Homo sapiens: one gene and its partners. The protein of the gene in region 2 interacts with the protein of the main gene of each other region in a pairwise test. Each region holds a gene or a part of one and is shown on either strand. Other genes may lie near its edges. The genes, in order: ZBTB43, MCM10, ZBTB8A, DPPA2 and MCM6.

What was found.
Region 1: the proteins of MCM10 (region 2) and ZBTB43 interact in a two-hybrid assay, tested with the Homo sapiens proteins (one large-scale study listed by BioGRID and IntAct).
Region 3: the proteins of MCM10 (region 2) and ZBTB8A interact in a two-hybrid assay, tested with the Homo sapiens proteins (one large-scale study listed by BioGRID and IntAct).
Region 4: the proteins of MCM10 (region 2) and DPPA2 interact in a two-hybrid assay, tested with the Homo sapiens proteins (one large-scale study listed by BioGRID and IntAct).
Region 5: the proteins of MCM10 (region 2) and MCM6 interact in binary tests that used the Homo sapiens proteins (3 or more experiments, as listed by UniProt).

What each region holds. Positions count from the first base shown.
Region 1 is NC_000009.12:126,808,040-126,811,539, forward strand, and holds part of ZBTB43 (zinc finger and BTB domain-containing protein 43), read left to right. Parts: intron 1-57; exon of another isoform or gene 58-153; intron 154-753; 5' UTR 754-876; intron 877-3,500. UniProt on the Homo sapiens protein: May be involved in transcriptional regulation.
Region 2 is NC_000010.11:13,195,432-13,200,243, reverse strand, and holds part of MCM10 (protein MCM10 homolog), read right to left. Parts: intron 2,622-4,812; coding exon 2,477-2,621; intron 1,556-2,476; coding exon 1,437-1,555; intron 1-1,436. UniProt on the Homo sapiens protein: Acts as a replication initiation factor that brings together the MCM2-7 helicase and the DNA polymerase alpha/primase complex in order to initiate DNA replication. Additionally, plays a role in preventing DNA damage during replication.
Region 3 is NC_000001.11:32,545,242-32,550,053, forward strand, and holds part of ZBTB8A (zinc finger and BTB domain-containing protein 8A), read left to right. Parts: intron 1-4,812. UniProt on the Homo sapiens protein: May be involved in transcriptional regulation.
Region 4 is NC_000003.12:109,295,839-109,300,265, forward strand, and holds part of DPPA2 (developmental pluripotency-associated protein 2), read right to left. Parts: intron 1-4,427. UniProt on the Homo sapiens protein: Binds to target gene promoters, including NKX2-5 and SYCE1, but not GATA4, and may be involved in the maintenance of the active epigenetic status of these genes.
Region 5 is NC_000002.12:135,841,713-135,846,183, reverse strand, and holds part of MCM6 (DNA replication licensing factor MCM6), read left to right. Parts: intron 1-1,499; coding exon 1,500-1,639; intron 1,640-4,471. UniProt on the Homo sapiens protein: Acts as a component of the MCM2-7 complex (MCM complex) which is the replicative helicase essential for 'once per cell cycle' DNA replication initiation and elongation in eukaryotic cells.

The DNA of each region.
Region 1 (3,500 bases), on a different chromosome or scaffold from region 2:
ATGTTGTTAATTTCTTGAAATGAGTACTGTTTCTGCCTTCTGCTTTCTTGATTTCAGCTTCTTATCCTGAATTCTAATGCACGTGAGGGTACAGTTAAAAACATTTCCTTGGCTTTATTGAAATTCAATGGAAGGATGATCGATAAATGGGGGGTTAGTTTCTAGAACGTTACCTTCTCTTTTGAATCTCAGAGAGTTTGCTGTAATAGAATGTTTGTCCTAGAAGTTTTTAAGTAAAACATTCAGCCGTGGCTTAAAATTGAAGGGAATCATGAATCAAACTTCATAAAGCAGGTGGCTTGTTTTTTTAAAAAACATCTTAAAATAGTTTTTACTAAGTGATTTGGCCAAAGTGTTCTAATTAGGAAAAAAATGGAAGAATACTGATTGACAATGGTCAGGAGACCAATAGCACTGTTCCAAAGGATATATTAATTCTGCAAAATTACATAGTCATTGACCATGTTTTCTAGTTTTAATGAATATGCCACAGTAATGGATGAGAGGTATATGGGAGTTATGCACTATCTTTTCAGTTTTTTTGAAAATTTAAAATTATTACAAAATAAGTTTGTTTTTTTAAAAAATACAAAAGCAGGAGCTATGAAGTTGCAGAATGGAATTTAATATAACCAAAAATGCCAGTCTTGATTACTTTTCTTTCTGCCGCTAATGTACATCTCTAGTGTTTATTAGCAAATACACGTGTACATAGCATCTCTTTTACATTTTCACTGTTACTCTTCCTTCCAGAAGTCAATGTGATTTTAATTTGAAGCAAAACTGAAATGGGTTCTTCTTCCTCATTCTATTCATGTTGCTTTTTGATGGCCATGGCATAAGGAACTCTATCCCAGGAATACAGCTTTGCATTAGGTAAGCTATCAACTTGATCACGATACCATTTTTAAAGTTACTTACTGTAATCATTTCTCTTTTAGCAAAAATAATAATGTATTTTGTTAAGATTTTTAATTCCTCTAGACCAGAAGATTCTTTCTTCTCTTCTGAAGAGATGTTACACCTTCTAAGGCCCATCAATGCCATACTTTGCACTGATAGAACATTTAATGTCAGATAAATTTTTCTGCCAAGTGAATTTTTTTTCTTAACTTAGAAAAATGTTAGATTTGGAGTTATACTGCTGTTTGAATGCTGACATGCCATTTCTGAGACGTGTAACCACTGGCAGGTCTTTTAATTTGAGCTTCAGTTTACTCATATTTCAAAAGGATGCAATGATACGGGAGTGTTGCACAACGCAGGTTTACATAGTGTGCTTTGTGAACTCTAAAGCATTTCACTAATGTAAAGAGTAGGCATAGGGTATTGGTGTTTTTGTACATTTGTGCCAGGCTTTAAATTTACTGAAGCAACATTTACTATGTTTAAATATGCTTTCTATAGTAAGCATGCAAGTTACCATATGCTCTGATTAAAGAAACCTCTGAAGGACTTCACAATAAGTAGCTGGTGGGTCTGCTTCCCTATTATATTGCTGTCATCTGTGTTTTTAGGATGTTTAATAGGTGTTTAAATCACGTATAAAATTTGACTTGGAGTTCCTCAGCCGAATAATAAATAGTGGCTGTTATTAAACTCATCAAAGTTGGAAGGAATCTTGAAGGTCATCTAGTTCAGGATTTCTTCAGTATGTTGCCCTTCATCTGCGTTAAAAAAAGCCAAATAGCTTTTAAGAAGCATAGTGGAACAGGCTGGCATCGGTGTGTTTGTTTTAGAACTGTTGCTATTGGATTAAAAAAATAAAATACATGTGCAAAGTGGCATAAAACTGCTGGTATCTTTTTTTTTTTGAGACAGAGTCTCGCTTTGTCGCCCAGGCTAGAGTGCAGTGGCAGGATCTCAGCTCACTGCAAGCTCCACCTCCCAGGCTCAAGCAGTTCTCTGCCTCAGCCTTCAGAGTAGCTGGGATTACAGGTGCCGGCCACCACACCCGGCTAATTTTTTTGTATTTTTAGTAGAGATGGGGTTTCACCATCTTGGCCAGACTGGTCTTGAACTCCTGACCTTGTGATCCACGGGCCTCAGCCTCCCAAAGTGCTGGGATTACAGACGTGAGCCACCGCGCCCGGCCCACTAACTGCTGGTATCTTATTAAGGTTTTTGTTTGTTTGTTCATTTGTTTGTTTATTTGTTTGTTTGTTTGTTTTTGAGATGGAGTCTCGCTCTTGTTGCCCAGGCTGGAGTGCAGTGGCAGAATCTCCGCTCACTGCAACCTCTGCCTCCCAGGTTCAAGAGATTTTCCTTCCTCAGCCTCCTGAGTAGCTGGGATTACAGGCATCTGTCAGCATGCCCAGCTAATTTTGTATTTTTAGTAGAGACAGGGTTTCGCCTTCTTGGCCAGGCCAGTCTCAAACTCCTGACCACAGGTGATCCACCGTCTCGTGCTCCCAAAGTGCTGGGATTACAGGCATGAGCCACTGTGCCCAGCCGTCTTTTTTTTTTTTTTTTTTTTTTTTGAGATGGGGTCTCGCTCTGTCACACAGGCTGGAGCGCGTGGCGAGATCTTGGCTCACTGCGACCTCTGCCTCCCGGGTTCAAGTGATTCTCCTGCCTCAGCCTCCCAGGTAGCTGGGACTACAGGCATGGGCCACCATGCACAGCTAATTTTTTTTTGTACTTTTAGTAGAGAAGGGGTTTCACCATGTTGGCCAGGATGGTCTCCATCTTTTGACCTGGTGATCCGCCCGCCTCGGCCTCCCAAAGTACTGGGATTACAGGAGTGAGCCACCATGCCTGGCTTGGGCCATCTTAAGTCTAAGGATGGTCAGCGTGCGAAAGTTTGTGAATGCATTGTATATAATAAAATTATATAGATTATTTGTGAAAATGATATTCACGTTTACTTTCCATACTCTGAAACTATAGTGATATTCACAGCCAGGCACGATGGCTCATGCCTGTAATCCCAGCACTTTGGGAGGCCAAGGTGGGCAGATCACATGAGGGTCAGGAGTTCGAGACCAACCTGGCCAACATGGTGAAACCCCATCTCTACTAAAAACACAAAAATTAGCTGGGCGTGGTGTCACGCACCTGTGGTCTCAGCTACTCAGGAGGCTGAGGCAGGAGAATCGCTTGAACCTGGGAGGCGGAGGTTACAGTGAGCTGAAGTGGCACCACTGCCCTCCAGCCTGGGCGACAGAGACTCCATCTCAAAAAAAAAAAAAAAAAGAAGAAAAAATTATATTCACCTTTTCTTTCCACCTCTTAAGCTATAGTGGGCCTGAACAAGTACTTTGGATTTAAATCTCAATTTTACTGCTTACCAGTTATATGACCTTAAGTTGCTTAGCTTTTTTGTCTATCTCCAATTCTGTACAATGGAAGTAAAAAATACCTATTGAGTGGGTTGCTGTGAAGATTAAGTGAGACAGAGCATATAAAGTGCTTTGCATAGACTTTGTACAATGTCTGTATTAAGCAGTTTATATATTTGTATATGTATGTCATAAATAGTAGTTGCTGTTATTTCCTAT
Region 2 (4,812 bases):
ACCCTAGAATCTAACTGCTTTCTACACAACCCTACAATATTTGTGCATGGTTTTAACCTATGTTGACCATTCCAAGAGTAAAACTAGATAAACCCTGTCTCTAAAAAAAAAAATTAGCCAGTCATGGTGATGCGCCTGTAGTCCCAGCTACTTGGGAGGCTGAGGTGGGAACATCACTTGAGCCCAGGAGTTCGAGGCTGCAGTGAGCCCTGATGGGGGACAGAAAAAGACCTTGTCTCAAAAAAAACAAAACCTCCCCAACCCCCACCAAAAGTACATTATCTAGCCCTAGCTACTCAGGAGGCTGAGGTATGAGAATTGCTTGAGCCCAGGAGTTCAAGACCAGCTTGGGGAACATACGGAGACCCTGTCTGAACACCCCTCCAACCCCTGACAAAACCCCTACATTATCAAAGAAATAGGTCCATGCTATTTACCAAGACACAAACCTATGTGAGCCTCCATTTCTGGCTCATTTACACTGATAAGTCCAAGCCTCTGATGACTTGATTATTTCCCCTAAGCTAGTTCTGCCTCTGCATTTATGAATCCATAATGAAATCTGTATCTTTATCACAAATCTTTTCATTTTTTCTTATTTGCATTAGGATATTTATTGATTTTTTTCGAAATGACTAGTATAGGTAATTCATATTATCTATGAATTTTATTTCAAGATAAGGAAGCAATACAAAATACTTGTTATTAAAAAGGGTCCTTGGGTGTGATGGGGTTAACTACTGATTTAGAGCATTTGAAATGCCAATATAAAAATACTGGAATGGGAAAACTCTTTTTGCATATTGCAAGGCAGAAAATAGCAGCAGTGTAGAGCCATTTAAACATAATTTCACAGCCATAACCAAATGCAAACATTTTTATAATATTGATATCTATTTAAGTCATGTTAAATCAAATGATATTCTTCAGTAAAGAGACAAGGACAAAGCTAAAATTTATTAGAAATTCTCCTGTTCTTCAAAGCAAACTCAAACAAACTGACATATACCTACTTTTAGATTTATGTAAAAAACAGATTCTTGGCTGGGTACGGGCATGGTGGCTCACGCCTGTAATCCCAGCACTTTGGGAGGCCAAGGCTGGAGGATCACTTGAGGTCAGGAGTTAGAGATCAGCCTGGCCAACACGGTGAAACTCTGTCCCTACTAAAAACACAAAAATTTGCTTCGTGTGGTGGCAGGCACCTGTAATCCCAGCTACTTGGGAGGCTGAGGCAGGAGAATCGCTTGAACCTGGGAGGCGGAGCTTGCATTGAGCCGAGATGGCGCCACTGCACTTCAGCCTGGGCCACAGACTGAGACTCTGTCTCAGAAAAACAAAATAAAACAAACAACACATTCTTGGTCCTACAGCTAGCACCTTGGCTTTGAAGGACATCGGACATCAACACCATCCTTGAGCTTTTGGGCTCTTACCTCTTTCAGGATGCCTGTGTGTTTTGATTTTGCTTTTAGGATTTTCTGAAATTCCTCAGATTCCAGATAGGCAAGTTGTTCTCTCCTTTTTTTCCTGGCAGGCTCCAATTCATCCTCAGCTAGGGCACAAGGAACAAACATTAGCAGCGACCAAGAAATTTCAGAAAGCCAGTGCGCCTCATCAACTCTACTCCCTCCCACTCCCTCCTCCTCTGCCTACCAGCCCTTCAAACTTGACCTACCCCCGCTGGTCCCAGCAGGGAAAAGCTCTCAGAGGTGAGCCAAGAAGCTGAGCCTAGAATGTGGGGTGGTGGCAGATTTTACCACTAAATAGAATCTCTTTTTCACCTTCAAATAGGCAGCTGACGATAGTAACAGATAACAACAGTGTAAATAATGTTGACAATTATGTTAAAATGATATTGCCAACTTCAGAGTTTTAAAAATAAAGATATGGCAATTTAAAACAAAGGAATTCTAGTTCTGTCAAAGTAAATCTTTATGCTAATATATATATGTACAAAGATCCAATGAGCAATCCTATTCCCAAGTATTCAAATTGTGCCCAATTTCATTCCAATTTAATGTAATTATAAAAAAATCAGTTCCAGCTCACGTCTGTAATCCCAGCACTTTGGGAGGTCAAGGCGGGCGGATCATGAGGTCAAGAGATCGAGGCCATCCTGGCCAACATGGTGAAACCCCATCTATACTAAAAATACAAAAAATTAGCTGGGCGTGGTGGCGCGCGCTTGTAGTCCCACTTACTCGTGAGGCTGAGGCAGGAGGATCGCTTGAACCCAGGAGGCAGAGGCTGTAGCGAGCCAAGACTGCGCCACTGCACTCTAGCCTGGCAACAGAGCAAGACTCCATGAAAAAAAAAAAAAAAATCAGTTCCACCCATAGAAATTCTATTTAGGTATTCTATATAGGAGGAAATGGAAGTAATTGCTTGATATCTGGGTGCTGGTTTGGGTTTAGAACATATTTCCCTTAGAAACAGTTTCTCTTTCCCACTGTTAACTGTGAAACTGCAGTACCTTGAGAAGAAAACATGGTGTTTTTTTCTACACGTTCCTTCACCTCCAGGATGTCCTGAGGGTCCTTTTGTTTCTTCTTAATGCTGTTTGGGTTTGTTTTTGTAAGAACCTGGCCTTTTGCCCTTAATTTGGTGATAGCAGCTAACTAGAAAAAAGGGAATGAGAGGGAGGTAAAGATCTAAAAGATGACAGAGGCACTTATAGACCTGGATCCCTTTTTTATTAGTAACCAGTGAATTCTGGCTGTTCTCTGACAGAAATTGGCAGAACATATCTTAATTTTACTTAGTATTATTAACACAATTACTAGAATATAATAGCATGGGAGACAGGTCTATATGTTGATGAATAAAATCTTAGTTTATTTAAATATAACAAGTTTGACATCAGCAAGACTGCAGGCTTCCAGATCCATAAAGGAGCCACATCACCATTTTGGAAGTTTTAGAATCAGAGAGAATTAAGATAAAGTTCCAGCCAGCTCTGCCACGGACTAGCTTGTAACCCAAGGAAAATTACTTAATTTTTCAAGTATAAAATGGAAATGGGGCTTGGCATGGTAGCTCATTGTAAACCCAGCACTTTGGGAGGCTGAAGCAGGTGGATTTCTTGAGCTCGGGAGTTTAAAACCAGCCTGAGCAACACAGTGAGACTTCATCTGGGCATGGTACAAAATTAGCTGGGCATGGTAGTGCATGCCTGTAGTCCCAGCTACTCAGGGGACTGAGATGGGAGGATCACCTGAGCCCAGGGAGATGGAGGTTTCAGTGAGCTGTGATTGCACCACTGTACACCAGCCTGGGAGACAGAGTGAGACCCTGTCTCAAAACAAACACACAAAAAAAGAGAAGGAAATGATGATATAGCATTGACCTACCTTTGAAGGTCATGGTTGTATGGATGAAATAAGATAATATCTGCAAAGTATGAATCTTTACATAGCAAATACATTCCTGGCCGGGCGCAGTGGCTCATGCCTGTAATCCCAGCACTTTGGGAGGCTGAGGCAGGTGGATCACTTGAGGTCAGGAGTTCGAAACCAGCCTGGCCAACATGGTGAAACCCTGTCTCTTCTAAAAATACAAAAATTAGTCAGGCATGGTGGTGGGCACCTGTAATCCCAGCAATTCGGGAGGCTGAGGCAAGAGAATTGATTGAACCCAGGAGGCAGAGGATGCAGTGAGGCGAGATCGGACTACTGTATTCCAGCCTGGGTGACAGAGCGAGACTCCATCTCAAAAAATATATATATAAATAAATAAATAAACATAGTAAATACATGGCACACACATATCACAAGTACTGAGTAATATGGACATGTGCCATGGTTATTGTAGGTATTCCTGTTGTTATTATTATAGGTAAGGTTTTGGCATACAGCAAGCTTTGCCCTTCATTTGGCTGCAGCTGCTAACTTAAGGGAAGAGAGAGGCTCGATTGGGGCACTCAGGAAGTGGGCAGGTGGGGCTCTGGGTGCCCTACCCCTACTTCAGCCGCAGCAACTCAGCTTTCACCTGTCATGGGACTGGACTTTTGTGTAAGATTTCTTTTAAAGGATTCTTGGTTAGGCACAGTGGCTCATGCCTGTAGTCCCAGCACTTTGGGAGGCTGAGGTGGGACTGCTTGAGTCCAGGAGTGCAAGACCAGCTTGGGCAGCAAAGGGAGGCCCCCATCTCTACAAAAAATACAAAAATTAGCCAAGGCGTGGTGGCATGTGCCTGCAGTCCCAGCTACTACTTGGGAGGCTGAGGCAGGTGGATGAATCGATCCTGGGAGGTTGAGGCTGCAGTGAACCATAATTGCACCACTGCACTCTAGCATGGGTGACAGGGGGATAGTCTGTCTCAACAAATAAAAAATAAAACCGCCAGGCATGGTGGCTCACACCTATAATCCTAGTACTTTGGGAGGCCGAGGTGGACAGATCATTTGAGGTCAGGAGTTCGAGACCAGCCTGGCCAACATGGTGAAACCATGTCTCTACTAAAAATTAGCCGGGCGTGGTGGTAGGCGCCTGTAGTCCCAGGTACTCGGGAGGCTGAAGCAGGACAATCGCTTGAATCTGGGAGGAGGAGGTTGCAGTGAGCCGAGATTGCGCCACTGCACTCCAGTCTGGGTGACAGAGTGAGACTCCTTCTCAAAAAATAAATAAATAAATAAATAAATAAATAAATAAATAAATAAACGTAAAAAAAGGATTCCTTAAACCACCATTTTACAGTCTCACCTCAACAATTCCAAGCATTGTTTTCCTACTGTCAATGCCTCTGGTTATAAAACACTATCTTCCTCTAGGCTACCTCTTGTAGCCTGACAAGAAAAAGTGTTGAGATAAC
Region 3 (4,812 bases), on a different chromosome or scaffold from region 2:
GAAAAAAATTTTAAAAAATTATTGTAGCAAACTATCCTAGTGGGTGTGAGGTAGTATCTCATTGTGATTTTGATTTGCATTTCTCTAATGATTAATGATGCTAAACATCTCTTCATGTGCTTATTTCTATTTGTCTTATTTAATCTTATTTATTTTAGCGATTATCTTATTTAATCCTCTTAACAGACTTCCTTAGAGCCTCTAAACAGTCAATAACCTCATTTTACAAAAAGGAAACGAATGCTTAGAGTTAAGTAACTTGACAAAGTCACACAGCTAATGATTGGTAGACCTATAATCCTGTGTTTCTTCTTTTTAAAATCCTTCAGAAGTGCCTCAGAACCCCCAAAACTGGAGGGGCTTCCAAGATCTAGCTCTTACATACTTTTCTAGTTTCATCTTCTGCCATCCTTCTGTAGGCCCACAGTCTCTAGCTATAGCAAACTTCTTACCATCCCCTAGGAGGCCATGCTGTTTAATACGCTGTTTTTGCCTTCCCATTTGGTGCTCTCTCTGGCTAGAACGCCTTTTGCCCTCTTTCTCATGTATAAACTTCTTTTCATCCTTCAAGACCCAACCTAAACGTTGAGCCTTTTGGAAATGTTTCTCAATACTACCAGGTACAATCATTTGCTTTCTTTGTTTTACAGTTCCCTTCTACTATGAGTATTTTCTTCATTGTATTGTCACTTTGTCTAGAAGTCTCTTCTCTTCCTGTCTCTTCTCTGACTCTCTCTCTCTCCTACTAGACAGTGAGCTGCTTGAAAGTGAGCACTGACCTTTGACATTTCATCACCTCTATATTCTCAGGACCAGGTATAGTCTGGTATAGAGTAGTTGCTCAATAAATATGTCTTGAATAAAATGCGTTTCACCTGCCAATTTGAGTATCTGCCCTTCTCATAAAAATAGAGTAAAAGGGCCACATACAGTGGCTCACACGTGTAATCCCAGCACTTTGGGAGGCCAAGGCGGGCAGATCACTTGAGGCCAGGAGTTTGAGACCAGCCTGGCCAACATGGCGAAACCCTGTCTCTGTTAAAAATATAATAATTAGCCAGGTGTGGTGGTGCGTGCCTGTAATCCCAGCTACTCAGGAGGCTGAGGCATGAGAATCACTTGAACCCAGGAGTGGCAGGTTGCAGTGAGCCAAGATCATGCCACTGCACTCCAGCCTGGGTAACAGAGTGAGACTCTGTCTCAAAAAAAAAAATAAATAAATAAATAAAAGATTTTTCTGTTAAAATATAGAAAGAGCCAGACATGGTGGTACACTGTTATAGTCCCACCTATGTGGGAGACTGAAGCAGGATCACTTGAGCCCCGGAGGCCAAGGCTGCAGTGAGCCAAGATCGTACCACTGCACTCCAGGCTGGTGGGACCTTGTCTCAAGAATTTAAAAAAGGAAAATATACTTCTGTGGAGTTCAGAACAATGTAAAATTAATGATTGTATCAAAAGATGAAGTTGTTTTCTTTCGGCTGTTTTTCTGACCCTTCAGAAAACCTCCATTGCTTTGAATCCTGTGGCTCTCAGCAGCATGTGAAACACGGAGGGCATAGCGGATGCCTTATATCACCTTCAGTTCCCTCTGTCTCCCTGGCGCTGTTGGACTAGGTCCAACATAAAATTCTTACAGTTCCAGAATATCTGGGGGAAGTTTTTTGTTTTTGTTTTTGAGACAGGGTCTTGCCCTGTTGCCCAGGCTGGAGTGCAGTGGCACAATCACAGCTCACTGCAGCCTCAGCCTCTCAGGCTCAAGTGATCCTCCCACCTCAGCCTACTGAGTAGCTGGGACCACAGGCATATACTACCACACACCTGGCTAATTTTTTAATTATTTGTAGAGATGAGGTCTCGCCATGTTGCCCAGGCTGGTCTCGAACTCCTGGGCTCAAGTGATCCTCCTGCCTGGGCCTTCCAAAGTGCTAGGATTATAGATATGAGCTACCATGCCCGGCTGGGGGAAGTTTTATTCCAAAATCTGCAATGTATTTTTCATCACCAGAAGATACCTCAGCAAACCAAACTAAGCCATAATTTTATCCATGACTTTTTAAATATATACATTAGAGTAGTATTCTAAGTATAAACAAATTTTCTTTTCTTTCTTTTTTTTTTTTTTTAGTAGAGATGGAGTCTTGCCCTGTTGCCCAGGCTAGAGTGCAGTGGCATGAGCATTGCTCACTGCAGCCTCGAACTCCTGGGCTCAAGGGATCTTCCCTCCTGCCTTAGCCTCCTGAGTAGCTGGGACTACAGGTTCGAGCCACTGTACTCAGCAACATTAAAACATAAACTTTTAGGTTGCAAATCTTATTTTAGGTTATAGATCTCATTCTCAGGCCACTGCACTCCAGCCTGAGTGACAGAGCAAGTCTGTATCTCAAAAAAAAAAAAAAAAAGAAAGAAAAAAAGGCAAAAATGGTTTCTCAAGAATAATTTGGCACACACTTGTATTCAGAAGGCTGAGGTGGGAGGATCACCTGAGCCCGGGGAGGTCAAGGCTGCAGTGAGCTGTGATCTCACCACTGCACTCCAGCCTGAGCAACAGAGAAAGATTCTGTCTAAAACAAAAAACAAACAAAGCAAAAAAAAAAAAAAAAAAAAAAAGACCAGGCGCAGTGGCTCACACTTGTAATCCCAGCACTTTGGGAGGCCGAGGCAGGTGGATCATGAGGTCAGGAGTTCGAGACCAGCCTGGTCAAAACAGTGAAACCCCCATCTCTACTAAAAATGCAAGAATTAGCTGGGCATGGTGGCCGGCACCTGTAATCCCAGCTACTTAGGAGGCTGAGACAGTAGAATCACTTGAACCCGGGAGGTAGAGGTTGCAGTGAGCCGAGATTGCACCACTGCACTCCAGCTTGGGCGACAGAGCTAGACTCCGTCTCAAATTAAAAAAAAAAAAAAAAAAAAAAAAAGAATAATCCTTCCTTAAGGTGAGGTCTGCAATTGACTAGTTGGAGTCGAGGGTTGCTATTCCCAGGTACACATGTAGTTTTGAAATGATCGCTCTCACTCTCTCTAGGTACATGAATATGATGAAACCAGTCAAAAAACATTTTTTTTTTCTGTATCCACATTTTTTGTTTTTGTTTTTGTTTTTGTTTTGAGACAGAGTCTCACTCAGCCGCCCAGGCTGGAGTGGAGTGGTGCAATCTCGGCTCACTGCAACCACCGTCTCCAGGGTTCAAGCGATTCTCCCGTCTCAGCCTCCTAAGTAGCTGGGATTACAGGCACCCGCCATCATGCCCGGCTAATTTTTGTATTTTAGTAGAGATGGGGTTTTGCCATGTTGGCCAGGCTGGTCTTGAACTCCTGACCTCAGGTGATAAACCCGCCTCAGCTTCCCAAAGTGCTAGGATTACAGGCGTGAGCCTCCTTTCTGTATCCCCATTTGTATAAGACAAGAAAATGTGTGGCAATAAAACTCTAAAATGTTTACATTTTGTACTCATTGAAAGCAGTGTTTTTAAATGTTTAGATAATTAATAATAATAATAATAGCTGACATTTATCAAGGGCTTGTTATAAGCCAGGCACTGTTATAAGCACGTTTCTTGGATTAGCTTCTAATATTCTCCATCTCGCAGCTCTGTAAGCTATAGGTATTATTATTGTCCCTGTATTAGTCCATGCTCTCATTGATAAAAAGAAATACCTGGCCGGGGCCAGGCACCGTGGCTCATGCCTGTAATCCCAGCACTTTGGGAGGCTGAGGCAGGCCGATCATGAGGTCAGGAGTTTGAGACCAGCCTAGCCAATATGGTGAAACTTCATCTCTACTGAAAATACAAAAATTAGCCGGGTATGGTGGCCCGCACCTGTAGTCCTAGCTACTCCAGAGGCAGAGACAGAATCGCTTGAACCCGGGAGGCAGAGGTTGCCATGAGCCGAGATCACGTCACTGCACTGCAACCTGGAGGGCAGAGTCAGACTCTGTCTCAAAACAAAACAAAACAAAACACCTCGCTGGGTGCTGTGGCTCATGCCTGTAATCCCAGCACTTTGGGAGGCCGAGGCGGGCGGATCACCTGAGGTCAGTAGTTCGAGACCAGCCTGGTCAACATGGTGAAACCCTGTCTCTACTAAAAATATAAAAATTAGCCACGCATGGTGGGATGTTCCTGTAATCCCGGCTACTTGGGGGGCTGAGGCAGGAGAATCGCTTGAACCCAAGAGGTAGAGGTTGCGGTGAGCCAAGATCACACCGTTGCACTCCAGCCTGGGCAACGAGTAAAACTCCGTCTCAAAAAAAAAAAAAAAGACTGCCCAACAGGCCCCCCAGGGAGGGAATCAGGAGGCTGCCAATGACATTGCTAGTGTAATTTAAGGGTCGACTAACTGCTATAGGCCATGCGCAGTGTAATCCAGCACTTTGAGAGGCCAAAGTGGGAGGATCCCCTTGAGCCTAGGAGTTCGAGTTTACGGTGAGCTGGGAGTGCACCACTGCACTTCAGCACTTCATCCTGGATGACAGAGTGAGACCCTGCCTCTGAAAATAAATAAAAGGAAACAACCCTGCTACCCCTGAACTTCCCCTGAACTCCTACCAAATAGTGACTCCTGTCTTCACCATGTTTGTCTTTTGACAATCATGAAGCTTTTGACACTGGAATGCTGCTATGAGAAAAAAATACAATGTTTCCATAAATGTGCTTGCCAGCATTAACAGCCAAAACAGAAGAAAGATGGTTCCCACCTCATTTCTGCCTTCCGGATCTCACAGAACATCTCATTGATAGGCCACATTTCACATGGGGAAACTGAATTGTAAAGGAGTCTGGGAAATGTACTTTTTAGTTTCCAGAA
Region 4 (4,427 bases), on a different chromosome or scaffold from region 2:
AAGTGGGAAGATGGAAATTCCAAGAATCAAAATAAAATGATAGAAATTAGAAGAAAATACTAACAGAAATGAAAACTGCCTTCATGGACTCATCTATAGCTGGACTGCCAACAAAAGAATCAGAGGGCTTAAACAAATGTCAATAGAAACCTCCAAAACTGAAAAGCAAAATGAAAAATCTTTTTAAAAAGAACTGAATATCCAAGAATTGCGAGGCAATTACAAAAAGGTTTCAACATGTAATGAAAATACCAGAAGAGAGAAAGGAATAGAAAGTTGTGAAGCAATGACTGAAAATATCCCAAAATTAATGACATACAAAACCAGAGATCCAGGAAGCTCAGAGATAGGAAGTAGGATAAACACCAAAAATTCAACACCTAGGCATATCATACTCAAACTGCAGAAAAACAAAGACAAATAGAAAATCGTAAAAGTAAGAGAAAAAAACACCTTAACTGTAAAGGAACAAAGGTAAGAATTACATTGGACTTCTCTCCGTAAGCCTTACAAACAAGAAGAGAGTAAAGTGATATTTAAAAAGAAGGAAACAAAGCTGGGCGTGGTGGCTCACGCCTGTAATCCCAAAACTTTGGGAGGCTAAGGCAGATGGATCACCTGAGGTCAGAAGTTTGAGACCAGCCTGACCAACATGGAGAAACACTGTCTCTACTAAAAATACAAAAATTAGCTGGGTGTCGTGGCACATGCCTGTAATCCCAGCTGCTTGGGAGGCTGAGACAGGAGAATTGTTTGAACCCAGGAGGTGGAGGTTGCAGAGAGCCAAGATCGCGCCATTGCGCTCCAGCTGGGAAAACAAGAGCAAAAACTCTGTCTCAAAAAAAATAATAAAAAAAAAAGGAAGGAAAGAAATGAGAAAATTATCTGCAAAAGATATATCTGATAGAGGACTGTTATTCAAAATATACAAAGACCTCTTAAAACTCAATAATAAAACAACCCAATTAAAAAATGTGCAAAAAGGCCAGGCAAAATCCTAGCACTTTGAGAGGCTGAGGCTGATGGATCACTTGAGCCAGGAGTTCGAGACCAGCCTGGGCAACATGGCAAAACCCCATCTCTACAAAAAAAAATAGAAAAATTAGCCAGGCATGGTAATGTGCACCTGTAGTCCCAGTAGGATACTGAGGTGGGAGAATCTTGCTTGAGCCCAGAAGGTCAAGGCTGCAGTGCGCCATGATCACACCACTGCACTCCAGCCTGGGTGAAAGAGCAAGACATTCTCTCAATAAAAAATAAATAGTAAGTTAAAAAATAAAAATTGTGCAGAAGACCTGAAAAGACACCACACCAAAGAAGATACACAGATGAGAAATAAACATATAAAAAGATGCTCTACTTCATATCATTAAGGAATTCCAAATTTAAAAAAATGTGATACTGGCTGGGCACAGTGGCTCATGCCTGTAATCCCAGCACTTTCAGAGGCCAAGGTGGGCAGATCACCTGAGGTCAGGAGTTTTAGATCAGTCTGGCCAACATGGCGAGACCCCATCTCTACTGAAAATACAAAAATTAACCAGTCATGGTAGCGTGTGCCTGTGGTCCCAGCTACTTGGGAGGCAGAGGCAGGATAATCACTTGAACCCAGGAGGCAAAGGTTGCAGTGAACTGAGATCACGCCACTGCACTCCAGCCTGGGTGACTGCACTCTCTGAGAGAGTCTGTCTCAAAAAAAAAAAAAGCACTGAAATACTGTGGCACGCCTATTAGAATGGCTAAAATCCAAACAATACGAAATACTAAGAAAGATATGGTGCAACAAGAACTCTCATTCATTGCTGGTAGGAATGCAAAATGCTACAGCCACTTTTAAAGACAGTTTGGCAGAAATGAGCTATCAGGCCATGACAACACATGGAGGAATCTTCACTACATATTGCTATCTGAAAGCCAATATGAAAAGGCTACACACTGTATAATTCTAAGTATACACAACATTCTGGAAATGGCAAAGCTATGATAGGCCAGGCACACTGGCTTATGCCTGTAATCCCAGCACTTTGGGAGGCTAAGGCAGAAGGACAGCTTGAGGCCAGAAGTTTGAGACCAATCTCGCCAACACAGTGAGACCCATCTCTACTAAAAATTAAAAAATAAAACTAGCTGGGTACGGTGGCACACACCTGTAGTCCCAGTGTCTCAGAAGGCTGGGCCAGGAGAATCCCTTGAGCCTAGGAGTTCAAGGCTGCAATGAGCTATGACTGCACCATTGCACTCCAGCCTGGGTGACTGAGCAAAAAGATCTATGGTTTCCAGTGTATGGGCTTGCGGGGAGGGATGAATTGGTGCAACACAAGGGATTTCTAAGGTAGTGAAACTATTCTGTATGACACTATGTTGGATAAATGTCATTTTACATTTGTCAAAACCATAGAATGTACAACACGAATAATAAAACCTAATATGAACTATAGAGTTTAGTTAATAATAAGGTATCTGCTCGGTGTAGAGGCTCACACCTGTAATCCCTGAACTCAGGGAGCCTGAGGTGGGAGGACTGCTGGAGCCCAGAAGTTTGACTAGCCTGAGAAACATGGTGAGACCCCATCTCTATAAAAAAATAATAAAATAGCCGGGCACGGTGGCTCACGCCTGTAATCCCAGCCCTTTGGGAGCCCAAGGCGGGTGAATCACGAGGTCAGGAGCTCAAGACCAGCCTGGCCAACATGGTGAAACCCCATCTCTACTAAAAAAATACAAAAAATTAGCTGGGCATAGTGGCGGGTGCCTGTAATCCCAGCTACTCGGAAGGCTGAGGCAGGAGAATCGCTTGAACCTGGGAGGCGGAGGTTCCAGTGAGCTGAGATCGGCGTCACTGCACTCCAGCCTGGTGATAAAGTATGATTCTGTCTAAAAATAATAATAATAATAATAATAATAAAATAGCCAGGCACAGTGGCTCACGCCTGTAATCCCTGCACTTTGGAAGATTAAGCGAGTGGATTGCTTGAGCTCAGGAGTTCAATGGTCTTGAACCAGGCTGTTCACCTGAGCAACACGGTGAAACCCGTCCTCTACCAAAAATTAAAAAAAATTAGCTGGGCATTATGGTGTGTGTCTGTAGTCCCAGCTACTTGGGAGGCTGAGGTGAGAGGATGGCTTGAACACGGAAGGCAGAGGTTGCAGTGAGCTGAGATCGTGCCACTGCACTCCAGCCTGGGTGACAGAGCCAGACCCTGTCTCAAAAATAAACAAATTTTTAAGAAAGAAAAAGAGGCCGGGCACGGTGGCTCACGCCTGTAATCCTAGCACTGGGAGGCTGAGGCAGGTGGATCACCTGAGGTCAGGAGTTCCAGATCAGCCTGGCCAAAATGGTGAAACCCCGACTCTACTAAACATACCAAAAAAAAAAAAAAAAATTGACTGGGGGCTGGGTGCGGTGGCTCCCGCCTGTAATCCCAGCACTTTGGGAAACCGAAGCGGGTGGATCCCAAGATTAGGAGTTCGAGACAAGCCTGGCCAATATGGCAAAACCCCGTTTCTACTAATACAAAAAAATTAGCCGGGTGTGGTGGCACATGCCTGTAATCCCAGCTACTCGGGAGGCTGAAGCAGGAGAGTTGCTTGAACCCGGGAGGTGGGAGGCGGAGGTTGCAGTGAGCTGAGATCACGCCACTGCACTCCAGCCTGGGCAACAGAGTGAGACTCTGTCTCAAAAAAAATAAAATAAAAATTTAGCTGGGCGTGGTGGTGTGCACCTGTAATCCCAGCTACTTGGGAGGCGGAGGCAGGCGAATTGCTTGAACCTGGGAGGCAGGGGTTGCAGTGAGCTGAGATCTCATCATTGTACTCCAGCCTGGGCGACAAGAATGAGACCCCGTCTCAAAAAAAAAAAAAAGAAAAAGAAAAAGAAAAAGAAAAAAGAATAATGTATCAATATTGACTCATTAGTTTTTTTTTTTTTTTAGAGACTATGTTGCCCAGGCTGGAGTGCAGTGGCAATTCACAGGTGTGATCACAGAGAACTACAACCTTGAACTCCTCCTGGGTGCAAGTGATCCTCCTGACTTAGCCTTCCCGGTAGCTGGGACTACAGGTGACTACCACCATGCCCAGCCCTGCCTCATCAATTGTAAAAAATGTAGCACACTAATGCAAGTTACTAACAGAGGAAAATGGAGGGGGTGTGAAGCACCGTGTACATGGGAATACATGGGAACCCTATACTTTTCACTCAAGTTTTCATTTTCAAAAAAGAGTCCATTAATTAAAACAAAACCAAATTGTATTCTGTGCAGCTAACTATTTAGTAAGTCAGTACTCAAGGCATCAGGAGATACCAAAGATGGTCAGGACACAGCACAGCAATGATTGGGATGCAAGTTATCTACAGACGCGCCACCATTTGTACTTCCTGGTAGACAGCAGACAAGAGACTTTGATACATTTATGTCCTGTTTTTT
Region 5 (4,471 bases), on a different chromosome or scaffold from region 2:
CACATAGGCCACTTGTGATTGCCAAACTTCGTGTTGTTCTGTCGGAAGAGAGGATAAGTTGTTAGATAAACTCACTTTAGCAAAGTAAATTTGTGGAGTATCAGCATACCTGCCAGCCTGAACATTTCTTCACAAGCTTATTGTCAGGCAAAGCTTTGTAGGTCCTTCTTTTTAACATTCTGGGCCTATTTTAATAATTTTGGGACCTGATAACATATGAAGCAGCACATACAAATGTTTTTACAAATGCAAAATTACTATTCCCTTACAATGGTTCTGTTTAAAACAGCTGGACCCCTAGGGTATATTTTAACAGTAATTAATTGAGCCTAGAAATCTATACTATCAAAAGGCCATTGCAGACTAGAAATGGAGTAAAATCCTCATGTAGTTATTGGTAAAGTGTGGCGTCTGGACACTAGTACGCTTCCTACCCTTAACTGCTTTACCATGCTATTCAAAGTTTTATCACCCTATAGTTAACTACAAAGCAGAAGGAAAAATGATGAATTCAAGATGTTGAACCTAAACTTCTACTTGATAGTTAAGCATCAGATAATTCTTGATTAAAAGCCCCAAGGATGGCTTGTGCTGGCTTTCTGGAATATTTTGTCATCACAGTATTTGCTCTGCTATGAAAGAAGAGAACAAGAGATTGTAGTTTCTGCCCTTGTTCCCCTGGGAACTTTAGACCAGTAGGAGAGAAGGCAACAAAGTGGCCACTAGGACGCCTCAGCTTTTGTCCTCATTCGCGTCTCACACAAAATGATTTGGGAACTCAAGGTGTTCTTGATTCATGTTATATGTCATTATTCTCTTTCTCCCTCATACAAGTAAGTTTTAAACACAGCAGAAGTTGAGTTTTATGATAGTTATGTTATCCAGGTCCAAACATTTCCTATGTGTTGAGGGTTCTTACCAGGACTTTCTAAAAGTCTGGTAGACCTTGGACTTGTTAAAAGCAGCAGGCAGTTCACTTAGTAAGATGAACCTTGCTAAAATAAACAGGTAATTTTTTATTTTGAGTGAATACTCATGAATTTTACTTCTTAGTAAACTCCAGTTCCATAAAGCCTTCCCCTTTCTACAGAGGAAAAGTTGTTATATTTCAGAATTTTTGCTTGCTGTTGCTTCATTCCTAATTTATGCTTTTAGTTTCTGTTGGCAAGCATTCTCAGAGGTGGTGAAGCATAAGAAGATGAAGAAAAGACCTTCATACTTTGAAATCTTAATAGCTTTAAGAAACATATTTCTTATAATCTATTTTATTAGGTTTCTCTCCTTATGGATAAAATAAGGCATGCTTTAATACAAGTGATATGACTTGTTATTTCAGGCTTATGCTAGAACATTGCGGACCTTACGTCACCAGATGTACTTTCGGACGGCTTGACATTTATCTAATCTGTACATTATCTCGTTGTATATGTGGCAGAGATTTACCCAAGGACTGACAGTACGAGTTGCTAGGATAATTTGAATGTGTTTTTTTGTTGCAGAAGAGGACGAGTCAGCATTAAAGAGGAGCGAGCTTGTTAACTGGTACTTGAAGGAAATCGAATCAGAGATAGACTCTGAAGAAGAACTTATAAATAAAAAAAGAATCATAGAGAAAGTTATTCATCGACTCACACACTATGTAGGTGCAGAAGTGCGCGTGCTCTGGTATCAGGGAGGGAGGGAGTTCATGCCCTGTATCTGCAGGTTCACTAGTGAAATTTTTTTTGACCTTTGTTTGTTTTGAATCATTGGAGTGTAGTCAGAAGTATGAGTTGTAAAATAAGAGAGAATGAACAGCAGGTAAATGACTTATTTCCTCTGCTGAAACAAGCAGAATTTAGGTTAAATCTCAGAAGGTGGGATTGAAGTCTTACTAGTTAGGTGTTTTAAGCTTCTGTTTCCCATCCTCATATTTGCCCTTGGTCGTACTGCTGTCACCTACTTTCTATGTTTCATTTTCCTCACATTCTTAGTTCCCACCTTACCCAACCCAATAGTCAATCTTCCATCTTACTTGCTTGGCGAAACCCCAAACTTGGTTAAATATAACTTTTTTTTTTTTTTGTATCCTTATCTAAGCAGCTGAAAGTATCTGGAGAAAAGCATATAATTATGAGCCCAGTCTTATTTAAATCGATGACCAGAAATCTCAAGTGGACAGTTCTTACTGTCTCATCAACCTCATGACAGCACTGCCCAGTGCAATTCCTTTTCCCGGGTCAGTTCTTTGCCTCACTCTCTCACAGGCCCATCACATACCTTCTCTCCACTCCTGTCAGCTGGCCATTCTCAGTACTCAGCCTGTCCACAGCTTTGTCACAGTTGATCACTCCTACAAATAGTGTCTTCCTCACTTGGTTCTGAGTCACTGTATCCTCCTGGGGCTTCTTTCTCACTGGTTATTCCCTCTTAGTCTCTTTCCCTGAATGGTTTTGTTTTTTTTTTTTTTTTTTGAGACAGAGTTTCGCTCTTGTTGCCCATGCTGGAGTGCAGTGGCATAGCTCACTGCAGCTTCCACCTCCTGGGTTCAAGCGATTCTCCTGTCTCAGCCTCCCAAGTAGGATTACAGGCGCCGGCCACCACGCCCGGCTAATTTTTTAATTTTTTTTTTTTAGTAGAGATGGGGTTTTGCCATGTTGGCCAGGCTGATCTAGAACTCCTAACCTCAGGCGATACGCTCACTTTGGCCTCCCAAACTGCTGGGATTACAGGCGTGAGCCACCGTGCCTGGCCTGAATCTTTCTCTTCTTACTTTACTCTCAGATAGTTTACATTCATTACCTAAGTGATCTCATTTGGTTTTATGAATTTATCCATCTACTGATGACTTCCACATTTATGTCACCAGCTCTCACCACTCCTGTAAACTCCAGATGTATAGAGCTGGTTGCCTACTGATGAGCGTTTAACAGGCATCTCGTGCTTAATGTGTTCAAAAACAGAGTTGTTCTTCCCTGTTTGCAGTTGAGTTGTTCTTACTCAATTGCTATAGGCCAAATGCCTTGGAATTGTCTTTGACTCCTTGATTCCACTCTCCCCTCACAGCTCCTCTTCAGCAGCAAATCCTCTGACCCCCAGCTTCAGTGTGTGTATATTTTCTTTTCTCTTTTTACCGCCTTCACCAGCCCACCCAAGCCACCAGGCATGGACTGTTGCAGAAGCCTCATAAAATTGTCCTTTTTTTGTATTGGCTTCTTGCTCAGCAGCCAGATAAGTCTTTTTAAAATATAAATCAGATTATTTTACTACCCTCCCTTCCAGTGCTTCTCTCACATTAGAAGGAAATTCAGCCTCCTTGTCATGGCCTGCAGAACTATTATACAGTGTAACCCCTGTCCCCTCATTCACCTAATTTCACAGCAGTCTTCCCCATACCCATTTCACCCCAGTGACACTGGCCTTGATCCCTAGGCACACCAAATATGAGGGCCTTTGCACTCACCCTTTGTCCATTTCCCTAGATATCCTCCTCCTCTCCAATGTCTGCTCAAATGTTACCTCTTCAAAGAAACCTTTCTTGCTAGCCTGCCAAAATAGTAGCCTTCTGCTCTTGCTGTCACCCTGCCTTGTATTTCTTCGTAATGTTTAACATGGCCCAGCAGTATATTCTTTATTTAAGTGGTTAGTTTGTCTCTCTTATGGAATATAAGCTCTGTGAGGGTAGAGACTTTGCCCCGGAGCTACAGTGGTACCTGGCACATAGCAGGATCAAATATATGTTGAATGGTTAAATTTTCCTATTATGTGGCAGAGATTTAACTGTCGTGCCAATTCACAGGGCTCACTATATAAATATTACAGAGGTCATGTATTGGGGTTGTGTCTTCTCAAAAACCGTTTTCCTGTGAAGGTAGATCAGTCTGTGATTATTGAGGGGTAGGGAGGTGTAAGAACAGCTACTCAGATCAGGGTCCAGAGTTGCTTTTCTAGTGGTGGGACATGTCTGTGTGCTCCTTGGGATCAGTGTAAAGTAAAACGACCCAGGCAAGGAATCTGCTTCAGGACTTTGGAACACACTGTGAAGCTAACTGATCTAAACTTGAATTACCTATTTATTTATTTATTTATTTATTTATCTTTTGAGAGAGTCTTGCTCTGTTGCCCAGACTGGAGTGCAGTAGCATGATCTCAGCTCGCCGCAACTTCCGCCTTCTGGGTTTAAATGATTCTCTTATCTCAGCCTCCAGAGTAGCTGGGATTACAGGTGCCCGCCACCACTCCCAGCTAATTTTTGTATTTTTAGTAGAGATGGTGTTTCACCATGTTGGCCAGGCTGGTCTCAAACTCCTGACCTCAGGTGATCCACCCACCTCAGCCTCCCAAAGTGCTGGGATTACAGGCATGAGCTACTGCGCTCAGCCTGGATTACCTTTTAAAATTTGGCTTACCACCTGAACTAATTTGCTACAGAAAACTAGAGAGCTTATACTGTGCTGATGAGATATGATGCTTCCTATGAAGGTATGTTAAC